Linked DNA regions of Homo sapiens. The protein of the gene in region 1 interacts with the protein of each later gene in a pairwise test. Each region holds a gene or a part of one and is shown in the gene's direction. Other genes may lie near its edges.

Region 1 (7,602 bases):
GGGTAGAGTAACACATTAAATGCTAGGTAACCAGGCAGCTATGAGAAGGGTTTGGAGGACCAATTAGTGGAGTCCTGGGGCTGGGCTGGAGGGTGGCAACAGAGAAAGTTCTCTGGATCCACCGCTCCAATTAAGTTTTTCCTGCCCATGTCCTTCAGGTTCCACCTGGGCCCACCCCTTCCAGGCTGCCACCACCCCCTCCCACCAATCACTAAGCTTTAGCTAGTCCTAAAATACCTAAAATAACATCCAGTCCTAAAATAAACATCAGTCTAATCCCTTTCACTCCTCCACCCCTCTTCCTGCAGCCATGGACTTGACTCCACTTTCCTCCTAGGTAGTGTTGCTGGAAAAATACAACCAACCAGTTAAATGTGAATTTCAGATAAGCAATGAGTACTTTTTTTTAGTACAAGTATTTCCAAATATTATATGGGGCAGTGGGATATGCTTATATGAAAAAATATTGTTTGGCCGGGCGCAGCGGCTCATGCCTGTAGTCCCAGCACTTTGGGAGGGTGAGGCGGATGGATTGCTTGAGCTCATGAGTTCAAGACCAGCCTGGGCAACATGGCAAAACCCTGTCTCCACAGAAAATACAAAAATTAGCCGGGCGTGGTGGTGCTCATGTCTGTAGTCCCAGCTACTTGAGAGGCTGAGGTGGGAGGATGGCTTGAGCCTGGGAGGTGGAGGTTGCCGCGAGCCAAGATCGCACTACTGTACTCCAGCCTGGGAGTGCAGAGCCAGACCTTGTCTTGAAAAAAAAAAAAAAAAAGGTTTGTTGTTTATCTGAAGCTCAAACTGGTTGCCTTGCATCTTTATTTGCTAAAGCTGGAACCCTACCCCAGGGGCACCACCAGAGCCTCCCCAACCCTCCCAAACTCCCTCTAGGTGGTTATTTTCTGGCTCCCCATTGCTTTCAGGGTAAAATCTCAATTTCTGGCCCCCTGCCTCCTTGGCCAGCCCTATTTCCTACCCCTTCTACCCCACTGCACCCTCCACCCCCCATCCTAGCTTGCTGGGGCAACTGGCCCTAAGTCCCTTGCCCTCTGCCTGGAGAACCTTCTCCCCTCCTCCGAATAGGCTGGTTCCTAACACCTCCTAACACTCTACTCAGGTGTCACCTCCTCTGAACTCCTTTCCCGAACCCCCACCCCATTCCCCACACTGGGTTAGGAGCTTTCTCTGGGATCTGGAGGAACCAAGTGAATATTTCTTTATCTGCCAGCACTTGTCAAACTGTCAACATTGTAATAATCTGTCATTTTACTGGCTCCCTTAGACTGTGAGTTTCTTGAGAGCAGGGGCTGTGTTCTTTCAGCCTTCTCATTTCTAGAACCGGAAATTCCTGTCTGGTTGGCAGACAATAAAAGCTTACTTAATAATTTTGCAGATAAGGCCCAAGAGAAAAAAACATCATTTATCGAATGCCTATTGCCAGCGAAGCACTGCTGCTCTGGGCCAGGCGCTTCAGGTGTTATTTTTGACCCTATAGTCAGAAAAAGGGCTCTGGAGAAAAAGCACGCAGCAAGGCTTGTGTGGGCTTGCCTCGTGTGCCCCATGTCCCACTCCCCCAGTCGGGCAGATGTGAGTCGCTGGTGATTGCTGGTTGGAAATGGAATCTCCTTGGATATTAACCATCCTGGTGGTTCTAGAAAGTGGAGGGTGTTTTCTGGAGAAGGGGCCTGCTATGGTGGGAATGTTGTTGTCCCCACTCCATTCATTTGTTGAAACTTAATCCTCAATGTTATAGTATTAAAAGGTGAGGCCTTTAGGAAGTGATTAGGTCATGAAGGCGGAACCCTCTGGAATGGAATTCATGCTCTTAGAAAAGAAGCTGGTGGCCAGGTGCAGTGGCTCACGCCTATAATCCCAGCACTTTGGGAGGTGGAGGAGGGCAAATTGCTTGAGCCCAGGAGTTCAAGACCAGCGTGGGCAACATAGTGAGACCCTGTCTCTACAAAAAATACAAAAATTAGCCAGGTGTGGTGGTGCATGTGTGTAGTCCCAGCTACTCAGGAGGCTGAGTTGGAAGGATTGCTTGTACATGGGAGGTCAAGGCTGCAGTGAGCTGCAATTGTGCCATTGCACAGAGTGAGATTCCATCTCAAAAAAAAGGAAGGCTGGTGGGGGGGCGGTGTCTGTTTGTTCCTTCCTTGGCCATATGAGGACTCAGACGATATCTGTGAAGCAGAGGGAGCCTTCATCAGACACCTAACCTGCTGGTGCCTTGATGTTGCGTTTCCCACCCTCCAGAACTGTGAGCAATACATTTCTGCTGTTTCTAAATTACCCACTCTAAGGTATTTTTGTTGTAGCAGCCCAGATGGACTAAGACAGCACAAGTGTAGAGAGCATGAAAAAATGTCAGGGATCTGGACAGATTCCATGGGCCATGCATTTCACCTAGGGCGCTACTCCTTGAGCAAGGGGGAGACAGACACTGAGCAGAACTGTACTTGCTCTGGTGAGATCACACCTTGGGTGGGGACTTCCTAAAATGAGGTTCTTGGCCTGTAGGAACTGGAAGTACACTGAAGGGTTGGGGTGTCTGGGGAGCTAGCCCACCATAACGGCCACTAGTCCCCCTAAGTAACTCCTACTTAAACTATATTTACAGAAATAAACATACATAGTGTGTGTATGGGGGGCAGTTTTTAAAAATCTGTCTTTTTTTTTTTTTTTTTTTTTTAAATCTCTGTTTTGGGGCTGGACGTGGTGGCTCATGTCTGTAATCCTAGCACTTTGGGAGGCCAAAGTGGGCTGACTGCTTTGAGCTCAGGGGTTTGAGACCAGCCTATGCAACAACGTGAAAACCCATCTCTACAAAACAAACAAACCAAACAAAACAAACAAGCAAACAAACAAAATTAGCTGGGTGTAGTGGCACACACTTGTAATCCCAGCTACTCAGGAGGCTGAGGCCGGAGAATCACTTGAAACCAGGAGGAGGATGCAGTGAGCCGAGATGGCGCCACTGCACTCCAGCCTGGGTGACAGAGCGAGACCCTGTCTGGAAAAAAAAAAAAAAAAAAAAAAGGACATTCAGTGGTGGTGTGGTGCTGACCTATAGCTATTAACATGAGATAAGCACTTTAAACAGAGTTGGTCAACTACTGGCAGCCTTGGTGTCATGGAAAGAACTTGGACTTTGGAACCACAGAAACTCAGGCAAGGCTCGGTAATGTTTCTCTTTTTAAATTGAGACAAGGTCTCTCTATGTTGCCTAGGCTGGGTCTCCAACTCCTGGGCTCAAGCCATCCTCTGGCCTTGGCCTCCCAAAAGTGCTAGGATCGCAGGTGTGAGTCACCATGCCCAGGCTCCAGTAATATTTCAGAACTTCCTCAAAACTGTTTCCTCCTTTGCTACTGCATTCTTCACTGAGATGAGGGTTAAGACCTACCTAACAGTAGTAATCTACATCTCAATGTAGGACTTCTGAATTCTGACTTGAGGAAAGCACCTGCTTTCCTGGTTGAGTAATTATAAACAGAGATTCTAGGTTTGCATGTTTGCAGTTTTAAACTCGAAAAGTGCATTTATCTCAAAAACACAGAATTATCAAGGATTTTAATTACTGATTTATTTGTAATGTAAAAATGGGAAACAAACGGCCTCCAGTAGGAAATTAATTTAATCCGCATAGCCATGCAATGGAATACTTCACGGCATTAAGATTGTGCTTTTGAAGACTATTTAGTGAGAAGAAAAATGTTCATCATAAAACAGTAAAAAGAAGGGCAGTAAACAAAACACCATACAATATACCCCACTGTAGAAAAACAAAATACATACAGAAATGTAATAGCCAAAGAAGGACCCAAAGCGAACGCTTCCCCCTGGGAACTAGGAGGGGTGGAGAGAAATTACTTTCTTCCCTGCATTTCTGTGTCTTTTCTAGCTTCCTATCAGTATCATGTATTGCCTTTAAATCCGAAAATACCCCTGTGTTATTAGTGAGGCGTCGTCGGGGCTCTGAGAGGCGCGCGCGCCCGGGACAGACCCCTGCGCCCCCTGGCGGCGCCCTGAGGCCCCGCCCCACGAGGCCGGCGCGACGGGGCGGGGCGCGGAGCCCCAGCCGAGCCTAGCCCTGCCCGGCCCCGGAGGACTTGCAACACTCCGAGGCCAGGAACGCTCCGTCTGGAACGGCGCAGGCAAGCCAGGGGGCCGGGGCCGGCGCCGTTGGGGACTGTGGGCGGTGGGGACTGGTCCAGGGCTGGGGCGGCCATGCGCCGGGGCGCCTAAACTTTTCGGAGCGCGCTCCCGGCTTGCCCGCTCCTGGGCCCAAGGAGCCCGTTCCAGATGGGGATCTCCCCTCCTGGCCCTTGGCGTTTCGCTCTCCCTGGGCGCGCGGGTGGGCGGCCGGGTCTGTGGCACCTGGTTAGCCTTGGGAGCCCAGCAGCGTGTTGTGGGCACTGGTGAGCGGAGCCAGGGTCTGGGGGTGTCCTCGTGTTCCCTCTTTCGGGCACGAGTGGCCTCTCTGTCGCAGGGCCTATCCACCATGCCAGCCCGAGTGGCCAGCTGTGTGGGATGAGGGCTTTCATGGCCCTCAGCTGGTGAGAAGAGGGAAGAGGGAGGGGAGACAGCCAGGGCCTGGCACGGACCCCAGGTTGCCCCCACACGCGCTGAGGCCAGTCTCGGTGTAGACAGGTGAATATTTAAGGGGTGGGGAAGGGGGGGTCCTAGCTTGCAGCTGGGGCAGAAGCCAATGAGCAGCTCAAGTGTTTGGCATGGGGAAGTGGCCACCTCTATCACCATGACTTTGCCCTCTGCCAGTCCCACTTCCAGCCACTGTTTCCCGGCTGGGTTCACAGAACTACAGGGGAGTAACATCCTCCTCGTGACTTCTTTGGGTTAGAGTGAAAACAAAACAGAGAAACGGGAAAAGGGAAAGCAAGTGGAGAGACTGGGGCAGGAGCCAGGGACCAGTGGGAGGAAGCAGAGGGAGGCTGCTGGGAGGCCAGGCCCTGGCCTTGTGGGGTCGGCACCAATTCTTGTCCTATGGGGTCTCCATCTCCTCTCCCTCCTCTGTGGCCTCTACGTGGTACCCAGGAGTTTGGGGTTCTACCTGAGCACCCTGGACATGGGATAAGTAGGCCTGGGAACGCAGGTCAGAGCCAGATGTCATGGAAGGGCCCTCAGGTGTCCAGTTCTCTGGGCTCTGAAATATTCATCTCATTAGTGAGCTTTGGTTTCCAAGCTGGCGACTTTGGGCTGGCCAGTGGTGGCAGGGGAGCCAGGTGCCTCCTGGGGCTGCTTTATTGGCGCAAAGGGGGAGCCATACTTCCTTCTCACCTGCCTCCTCTCTCTGTCTCTCCAGTCATGAGGATCCAGAGAACCAGTTTATAGCTTAAATGGAAGAGGCAGGACCACAGTGTCAGGGGCCCTGTCTTTCTGTGCTATGACCTCAAGGCCTCACTTGTAAAAATGAGCCCTTCAGAGAGGTAATGATGGGTTATCCTGTAAGTGTTGGGAGAGCCTCATGTCATGAGCTGGGGTAATAGCCACCTGGGCTCAGCCTCCTCCCCTGGGAATGGGTGCCTCAGCCAGACGCTGTCTACCTCAGAGCACCTCCAACCGCAGGCCTCACCCTGGGCCTTTCAGAAAAAGCAGAAGCCACAGAGAAGGGAAACACACATACTTGTGTGTTTTCAGAGGGCTGAACTGGGACGACCAGAGAGTGGAAGCTCATACAATTCTCTGGGAAGAAGTTCTGCTAACAACATGTCTGATCATGACATGGGCCTTCTGGACCTATTCTGTTGGGGACACAGTGGAAGGGATGACCTTGACAGAATCTTCCAACCCTAAGATTCTGGGATTCTAGGCCAAAACCTGGGTCTTGTTTTGAAGTAGAAATGATATCCAGAAGTCGACAGGCTACAGTGGCAGGTACCTCCATTGGTGGGAAGGGAGATATTAATGAGCTCCCACTTTTGTCTGTAATGATTTGTGCTTTGCCCCGTTGCACAGAGGTGAGGTTAGGGGTGCCCGTTTCCTGGTTCTGTGGTAGCTGGATATGTCCCCCGGCCCTTGGCAGTAAATCCCACGGTGGGATAGCAGCTGTGTGGAATGGGGGAAGGGGAGGACCCTCGCCAGAGATCCTGGCACTGGGCTGACCCCCTGAGAGTGAGAGGGCATGTCTAGTACTTCATGTGACTGCTCTGAGGGGCAGCTGGGTGTACGCACAGAGGTTATAAGAGACGAGGAGTTAGGATATGAATGATTCTCAGGGTTGGGTGTCTGTAATACAAAGGTGGCCTGGGTCAGCATCCCACAGGGTGTTAATAGGTTTGCCTCGATAAAAGTGGCTCAGGCTTAAGGGAGTTTGAAGGAACACTGGGTTAAACAAAGCTGAACAGGGTTGCTTACTGCAGGACTTCTCAGGGGCAGAATATGCCATTGTGAATTTCCAAGAAGGGGGTGTGGATTGTTTCTCAAGAGTCATCTGTTTCCAGCACTCATTCATTAACGTCTCCTGGGGCGTGTTCTTTAGAACAGTCTGGGAAATGCCTGGCTAGGTGATTCTGTTTCTCCACTGTGGCTCCCATAAACAAGTCCCTACTCCTTTCCCCCACGTGGGCTGATTTAGGGATAAAAGGAGGCCAGGGGAGGTCATTTGCCTGGATTCCTGCAGCTAGTTCATGAACCCAGGTCAGTGGACTTCCTGCCTCCTACTCTTTCTTTCCTAGAGTGTTATATACTGTTTAGCTCGGGCGTAACTGATCACCCAGGAAGAGCTGGCCGTAGGGTCCAGACAGCATTATGGGGACAGTTTGGGAGGGTGTGGACAGCCCCATACTGAGAACATGCCATGTACTTCTGCCTCTGAAGATGTCCTTGGAAACAGTTGCACATCAGTAGTGACCCCCTGGTGTAGGTTCTTGGGGAGCCATGCCATTCTGCCCTGAAGCCTCCTGTTAGGCTGTTCATTCAGAATCAGAAACTGGCAGAGTGGACTTTGATCTTTCAGTTTTTTTTTTTTTTTTTTTTTCTGTCGCCCAGGCTGGAGTGCAGTGGCATGGTCTCGGCTCACTGCAACCTACATCTCCTGGGTTCAAGTGATTCTCCTGCCTCAGCCTCCCGAGAAGCTGGGATTATAGGCATGTGCCACCATGCCCGGCTAATTTTTGTATTTTTAGTAGAGACGAGGTTTCACCATGTTGGCCAGGCTGGTCTCGAACACCTGACCTCAAGTGATCCGCCTGGCTCGGCCTCCCAAAGTGCTGGGATTACAGGCATGAGCCACCGCGCCTGGCCATTCTTTCATTTGAGGGGAATTGTCTTACTGATGTTAAAACTGGGTCTAGAGATGTGGCTCTCACAGTGGAGTGAGTCCCAAAGCCAGGACAAGAACTTCAGGTCCCCACCTCCTAGCCCAGGACCCAGGCTTCAGATCAACTTTCCGCAGGGGAAAGAAATAATGGTAGCAACAACAGCTTGCTCAGCTCCTTTCTATCTATCGTTTTGATCTTTACTGCCTTGGCCCCACCCTGGTGCTGCCTATTCACGCAGGTGCGTGCTACAGATGCCTCAGGGGCTTCTACTCCTGCCTGATATAAAAGCAAAGAGGCTGAATTTTAAATCAGGTGTGAGATCTAT
Region 2 (7,628 bases), on another chromosome or scaffold:
AGCAGTTCGAGGCTGCAGTAAGCTATGATCTGCTTCCGCTACTGCACTCCAGCCTGGGTGACAGAGCGAGACCCTGTCTCAAAAACAAAGACAACGAAAGAAAGCTGATCCTAACTAGGTTCTCTGTGTCACCAGGGAACCAATTTTAGGAAGTTGATAAGTTTTTAACTGTCTGTGTTTATTAGCAATTCCCATTATGTTCAGCTGTGTTTCTAAGGGAGGTTATACTTCCAAGTCTTAAATATGCTGATTAGGACTTCTGGTATTTTAAGGTTTGTTAAAACTGTATAATTAAGTAACACCTCACTTTTATAAGCAGTCTCCATGGCTCTCAATCCAAGCTTTGCCATTTTCTAGCTGTGTGACCTCCTCTGCCTCAGTTTTATCATCTGTAAACTTGGGATAAAAGAATCTCCCTCATGGGGATTGACATAAGGATGAAATAAGTTGATACATATGATGTATTTAGAATAATAGTTCCTAGAAGGTGGAAGGTACTGAACATTATTTTAAAGAGCCTGCTATTTTATAAAGCTGGGTTTCAAACAGCTTTTTAAATAAATTGGACAATATATTCAGGTCTGTATTACAAAATAGAGGTTTCTTACTTAGGATGTCTGTGAATTCAGTTAACATTGTAAGCAAATTTTATGTATGAATTGTGTGCTGGGGAGAAAGTCCTTTGGCTTTCACTGGAGTCTTGTCTTTTTTTTTTTTTTGGAGACAGAGTTTCGCTCTTGTCACCCAGACTGGAGTGCAATGGCGCGATCTCGGCTCACTGCAACCTCCACCTCCCAGGTTCAAGCGATTCTCCTGCCTTAGTCTCCCGAGTAGCTAGAATTACAGGTGCCCGCCACCACGCCTGACTTATTTTTAGTAGAGATGGGGTTTCACCACATTGGCCAGGCTAGTCTCAAACTCCTGACCTCACGTGATCCACCCCCCTCAGCCTCCCAAAGTGCTGGGATTATAGGCGTGAGCCACCACGCCTGGCCTCACTGGAGTCTTAAAGGGATCATAAACCCCATAGAATGTTATGTCACTGATGTGGTATCCACTGATGTATCCTCCAACAAATTACAATTGAAAACCAAACCAAAACAAAAAGAAGCCCTTCACTTTTAAATTAACCATATTTTTATTATCTTAAGTGCTGTTATTTATTAAAAGTAAAGAAGTAGAACTTTATGTTAAAAGAACATTTTCATATATGTAATACCTAGGTTATGAATTTTTAAATGCGTATATAACTAAGTTAATATTGAACCTAATCTTATCTTTTCGATGATCCAAAGGCAGTTATGGTTATTTCAGTACCTGAAGGTCATGGTAAGCATTAATCATCGTGATACTGTGGCTGTGGTAGAAGGTTTAATAGCACTGTAATGCAACGGGATTTCCTGTGTCCACGTAACTTGAAGCTCAAGGCACAATTCTTTTAGATAAGAAAATATCTAAAAATGCTATATTATAATTGACTTATTGCTTTTAATAAAGAGGTTTCTACTATGGATATCTGTTATTTACTGAATATCTTAAAGAGAAAAAATTGTATTGTTGTCCATTATGTTGTAGTCTAGACTCTCCAGTTAGTGCTTGCCCAGCCCATGACAAAAAACTGTATTCTCCCTTTTTTCCCTCCTGTTCATGTCTATAATTAGGTAGGAGTCATCACTTCCCTTTAATCCCATTTTACTGAATATCTACTGAGTGTAAAGAGCTTCTAGGAAGTCTGACGTGGGCAACCAAATGACCTAGAGTATAGGAAGAAAATGTAATTTCTTTTTTTTTGAGACAGGGTCTTGCTCTGTTGCCCAGGCTGCACTGCAGTGGCACAATCTCAGGTCACTGCAGCCTCTTCCTCCCAGGCTCAAGCAATTCTCGTGCCTCAGCCTCCCAAGTAGGTGGGATTACAGGTGTGTGCCACCACGCCCAGCTAATTTTTGTATCGTAGAGACAGAGTTTCACCATGTTGCCCAGGCTTAGAATTTCTATTTATCTGAAAATAAGAAAATACAATCTTTATTAATACTGAATATATAGACTCACCACAATATATGCATATATTTTGTAAGTAAATAGGTGTGTGTACAAATATTTTTAACTGATGGTGTTGTGTAGTCAGCAAAATTTGAAAACCACAGCTCTAAAAGATACAAAGAACTTTGATATAATCTTTTAAAATAGGGTTTTATATTATTAAAGTAGCACTGATATTCCCTGCCTATGAACTGCTTTATTTAATGTATTCTGATTCATTTATGGTAATTAGAAAATTTATTTGAAGGCTGGGCACAGTGGCTCATGCCTGTAATCCCAGCACTTTGGGAGGCTGAGGCGGGAGGATTGCAGTTCAAGACCAGCCTGGGTAACATGATGAGACCCCCATCTCTACAAAAAATTAGCAAGGCCTGGTGGTGTGTGCCTGCGGTCCCAGCTACTCAGGAGGCTGAGGCAGGAGGATCCCTTGAGCAAAGGAGGTTGAGACTGCAATAAGCCATGTTCATGCCACTGCACTGCAGCCTGGGTGACTGGGTGACTGTCTCAAAAAAAGAAATAAAAGAAAAATTATTTGAACTGTTTTGGCACTGATTAGACAGCTGTGAGGGAGTGGAAAGGGGACTGACTTTGGAATCACTAAATGGGACTTGATTCCTGGATCTGCCACTTTCTATGACCTTAGGTGAATTGCTTAATTTTGGGCCTCAGTTTCTTAATATGTAAACTGGAGATAATGCCACAACCACAAGGGTAGTAGTGAAGATATAAATGTGATGGGAAATGGTACATAGAAGATGGTTCAAAACTGTGTTTGATATGCTTATCTTTTATCAGTGCTGTACAGCAAGAGTTTTTCAGTGTTATTTGAAGTGACTTCAGTTGCTTATTTATACCGTAATAATTGCCTGATGTATCACAAGTATTTTAAATTGCCTAACAAGAAGTAGGATTTTTGGAATTTGCACAGTAAGACCAAATTTACTGATTATTTATGACTACAGTCAGTACTGTTTTTCTTATTTCTATTTATCCAACCCTTCCAAATAGATGCCTTCCAGTTGACTTAAATTTAATATCTCCTGTGGCGTTTATACATATATATGCACACATTTATGCAAAAAGCTATTAAAGCAGTTCTGATAATTAACTTACTTAGATGTGGCTGAAAACTTTATTCTTAAATTTCAAAAATGTTTATATAGAAGCAGCCATTTTTCTCAAGCATTTTTTAAAAATTCCTGCCATTTGTGAATTATATAGCAAATGATTACCTAGGTTTTGGCATTAAGCCCACTTCACTACTTCTTACTAGTAAAACAAAGGATTACATTTGTTCAGTTATATAAACCTGTTCTCATTACTTAGTTTTGAATCAGGAAATTGAAGCGTTCAGTCTGTCCGAAGACACTTCATCGGGGCTGCCTGAGGATCGAGTTGTCAGCGTGAGTTTCCGAGTTCTCTACCCCATCGTTATTACCAGTCTTGGAGTGTTCTACGATGCCAATGATGTGGGTTTCCAGAGGAACATCACTGTCAAACTTTATCAGGCAGAACAAGAGGTATGCACTGCTCTGTACAGGTTTTTTCTCTTTTTTCTTTTTCAAAAACATCAACTTTTCCTTGTGACATACAGTAAGTAGATTGGAAGACTATATAATTCTCTCTGGTTGAGAGACTTTCACCTTTCTTCCCCTATTGACTAAATACACTGTAGTGTGATATAAGACTGGTTTGGGGATAGATTATCTGTGAATAAATGTGCTATATCTAGAAGAGAAGGAGTTGACTAGATTAGAAATCTCCAACCTAAAATTCCCTAAAACCTAGGGAATTTCAAAAGTTGGTAATGGATATAAAAAAAGTTTAGGATTCTTAGGATAAGTGAGTATTATTGCCTCTTACTTCCAACTGTAGAAGTCTGTAATACAAGGCTAATAACTGCTTCAAATCTTTTTTGTAATAAGGATATAGAGGGAATAAAAGTTATTCTTTTACAGAAAACAGAAAACCAGTGAGGTTTCTCTATTCCCGATATGTAGGGAAATCTGATTTGTTCACAGAGTGCATGTGAAGTAGCAGCATGGAAATGTATTTGAAGGATCTGTTTTTTAGTTTTAAACATGAAGAAAACTTGAAGGAATTATTCAGTAAACCCTATAGCCACTAACTACATTCTACAACAATTAACGTTTTCCTGTATTTGGTTTATTACTCCTAAGTAGCTGGGATTCTAGGTGCATGCCACCACACCTGGCTAATTTTTGTATTTTTAGTAAAGATGGGATTTTGCCATGTGGGCTAGGCTGGTGTCAAACTCCTGACCTCAAGTGATCTGCCCTTCTCGGCCTCCCAGAGTGCTGCCTCAGCCTCCCAAGTAGCCTCCCAAAGTGCTGGGATTACAGGCGTGAGGCACCGCACCAGGCCTGGTGTGCTTTTTCTTTGTCTGTTTTATTCAGGGCGTGCTACATGTTTCTTCAATCTGTAAATGTATGTATTTTACCAAATTTGGGGGATTTTCAACTATTAATGTCTTCAGAACCTTTTCTGACTTCGCTCGCTCTCTCTATTCCTCCTGGGATTCCAGTTACATGTATGTTAGATCTTTTGGTATTGTCCTGCAGATCACAAGACTGTTCATTTTTTTCAGTGTTTTTTCTCTTTTCTAATGTAGATAACTTCTGTTCATCTGTATTCAAGTTTAGTGACTCTTCTGTCATCTCAAATCTGAAGTTAAGCCTATCCAATGAATTTTTTATTTTAGATTTATTTTAAATATTATACTTTTTAGTGCTTCAGTTTCCATTTAGTTCTTTTTTACTGTTTCTATTTCTCTAAAATTTCCTATGTGTTCATTGTTTGAGAATATTTTTCTCTACAGCTTTGACCATAGTTATAACAGCAGCTTTAAAATCTGTGTACGCTTATTCTGAGTCATCTCAGCGTCTGTCTTTATTGATTATTATCTTTCCTCTAAAATATGGGTAACATTTTTCTGTTTTATGTCTAGTATTTTGGGGGGTTTTTTGGTTTGGGTTTCGGTTTTTTTGTTGTTGTTTGACAGGGTCTCGCTCTTTTACCTGAGCTGGAGTGCAGTGGCACAGTCGTGGTTCACTGCAGCCTTAAACTCCTGGGCTCAAGCTATCCGCCCATCTCAGCCTCTTGAGTAGCTGGGACTACATGCTACTCATGCATTGTATCCTAGATATTGTAAATAATTCATTGTAGGAACTCTGGATCCTATTATATTCCTCAGAGTATTGATTTTTTTTTTTTGTTTTAGCAGGCAGCTAAATTGGCTGGACACAGACTAAACATTGTCTCACTTGCAGTGAGAAACAGCTAAAATCTCTATTCAGTTTCTCTGGCCTTGGATGGGCTACTTGGGTTCTGCCTTGTATGTGTATTTCATGAGTCAGCCACAGATTTGGGTAGAGTTTATATGAAGAATTTGTGGTTCTCTCTCTCTGTGATCCTTTCCTTTCTGGGAGGTTCCCCCTAATGCCTTTTATTAATTGATGTGTTTGCCCCAACTCTGTCCTCTTAATTTTCAAGCAGAAAGACTACAGATTTTCATTCAAATTTCTAGTTACCCTAGAGTTGTATCCTCAGACAAAGAGTCAAGAAGTGGGGTAGGGAGGAGATGCATATTTGGAGCCTTTTCCTTCTTCCAAGTACTGATTCTTCTCTAGTTTCTGCCTGTTTGTTTGAATTCCAGTGCCTTCAAATCATTGTTTTTTATGTTTCATCCAGAGTTCATAGTTACTATCTATAGGAGAATTGGTCTGATATTACTGGCAGCAGAACTCTGTTCAGTTTTTTAAAATGTGTTTGTATTATTAATGTTGATTATTAGCAATGAATATAATGTTAGAGACTCATCAATAAATACACAAATAAATTTGAGATTAAATTTCTTTTTTGGAATTTGCCCTGTTCTTCCTCTAAATAATCTGTCTCGTTTGTTGATGTGTTTATAGACATAAATATAAGACAGAGGGAAGAGTAGGATTTCTACTGATGATGCCAGCTATAATGATTAGTGAGAAGAGCTTTGTATACTCAACTATAGGAGTCCATATATGATTGTAGTTAACAGTTTCATTGATACTGAAGATCAAATAGGTAATTGAAATAGCAGTACTCTGAGTATCACTGTTATCTAGAAATTAGAATTAATCTTGAATTTTTTTGATACACTTGTTTATCTTAGTATATATAGTTTAAAAAAAAAACTATCAGCCAGGCGCAATGGCTCACGCCTGTAATCCCAGCATTTTGGGAGGGCAAGGCAGATGGATTGCTTCAGCCCAGGAGTTAGAGACCAGCCTAGGCAATACAGTGAGACCCCATCTCTACAAAAAATTAAGAAAATAGGCAGGCATGGTAGCATTTGCTTACAGTCCCAGCTACTTGGTAGGTTGAGGTGGGAGGATCACTTGAGCCCAGGAGGTCGAGGCTGCATTACAGTGAGCCGTGATTGCACCACTCACTCCAGCCTAGGTGACAGAGTGAGACTGTCTCAAAAAACAAAACTATTTATAGTGTGCGAGTTATCAATCAAGTAGTTTGGTTCAGACATACAATATTTTGATCATGTCGATATAACTTCTAGTTGCCATATTTTTAACCAGGGAGGAGTTAATCTTTGTCCTCAAGGAAGGACTAGTCTAAGATGGATGCTAATGGGTTCATGGGTAGTCACGATGCAAAAACTATTCTTATACTGCATTGCTAAGAACTGGTGTTCATGAAAGAAATAGACATAATCCATTGAAATGTGCTTAATTTTGAACCCCTGCATGGTTTTAAGAGCTTAACAGAAGTTTCCCCTATGGTTAAGTTGGTATATAAGAATAGGCATGAGAATGAGGAAATGTTGCCTGGAAGAAATGGGAGAACCCAAGAAAACGATAGACATAGTGAAAATCAGTCCGGTTTTTTTTTTTTTTTTTTTTTTTTTTTTTTTTTTTTTTTTGAGACAGAGTCTGGCTCTGCGGTCCAGGCTGGAGTGCAGTGGTGCAGTCTTGGCTCACTGCAGCCTCCACCTCCTGGGTTCAAGCGATTCTCCTGCTTCAGCCTCCTAAGTAGCTGGGACTACAGGTGCCTGCCACCACACCCAGCTAATTTTTGTATTTTTAGTAGAAATTTGGAGTTTCACATGTTGGCCAGGCTGGTCTGGAACTCCTGACCTCAAGTGATCTGCCTGCCTCAGCCTCCCAAAGTGGTGGGATTACAAGCGTGAGCCACTGCACCTGGCTCCAGTCCTCTTTTATATTCCCTTTTTTGTTTTGTTTATATTTTCTTCTGAAGATTCTTTTTGAACGGAGTTTCCTGAGTGCTTTTGTTCCCAGTAAAAATCTGTGTCTTTCAGTTTAGTTTTAACCCTTTGGGGGAGTGTTGACACTATAATGTGTTGGCTTAATTTAACAACACTGCTCACTTCCCTGAATATTTTTTCTTTCAAGGTGGGTTTTTTTTTTAAGGTTATGTGGATTATGTTTAGCATTTGAGAATTTCGTGACAACTTTGATTACCTTAAATATCGTTATTTAATAACCATGACTGCACTAGAAAACCCAGTGATGCCAAAACCACAGTAGAACCATGTTAGTGACCGTGGTTAGGGC

Evidence for each region. Proteins that work in one complex are often made in the same cells at the same time.
Region 2: the proteins of TMBIM1 (region 1) and B3GALNT2 interact in binary tests that used the Homo sapiens proteins (3 or more experiments, as listed by UniProt).

What each region holds. Positions count from the first base shown.
Region 1 is NC_000002.12:218,289,018-218,296,619, reverse strand, and holds the start of TMBIM1 (protein lifeguard 3), read left to right. Parts: upstream 1-4,116; 5' UTR 4,117-4,154; intron 4,155-6,623; exon of another isoform or gene 6,624-6,654; intron 6,655-7,602. UniProt on the Homo sapiens protein: Negatively regulates aortic matrix metalloproteinase-9 (MMP9) production and may play a protective role in vascular remodeling.
Region 2 is NC_000001.11:235,480,254-235,487,881, reverse strand, and holds part of B3GALNT2 (UDP-GalNAc:beta-1,3-N-acetylgalactosaminyltransferase 2), read left to right. Parts: intron 1-3,366; coding exon 3,367-3,560; intron 3,561-7,628. UniProt on the Homo sapiens protein: Beta-1,3-N-acetylgalactosaminyltransferase that synthesizes a unique carbohydrate structure, GalNAc-beta-1-3GlcNAc, on N- and O-glycans. Has no galactose nor galactosaminyl transferase activity toward any acceptor substrate.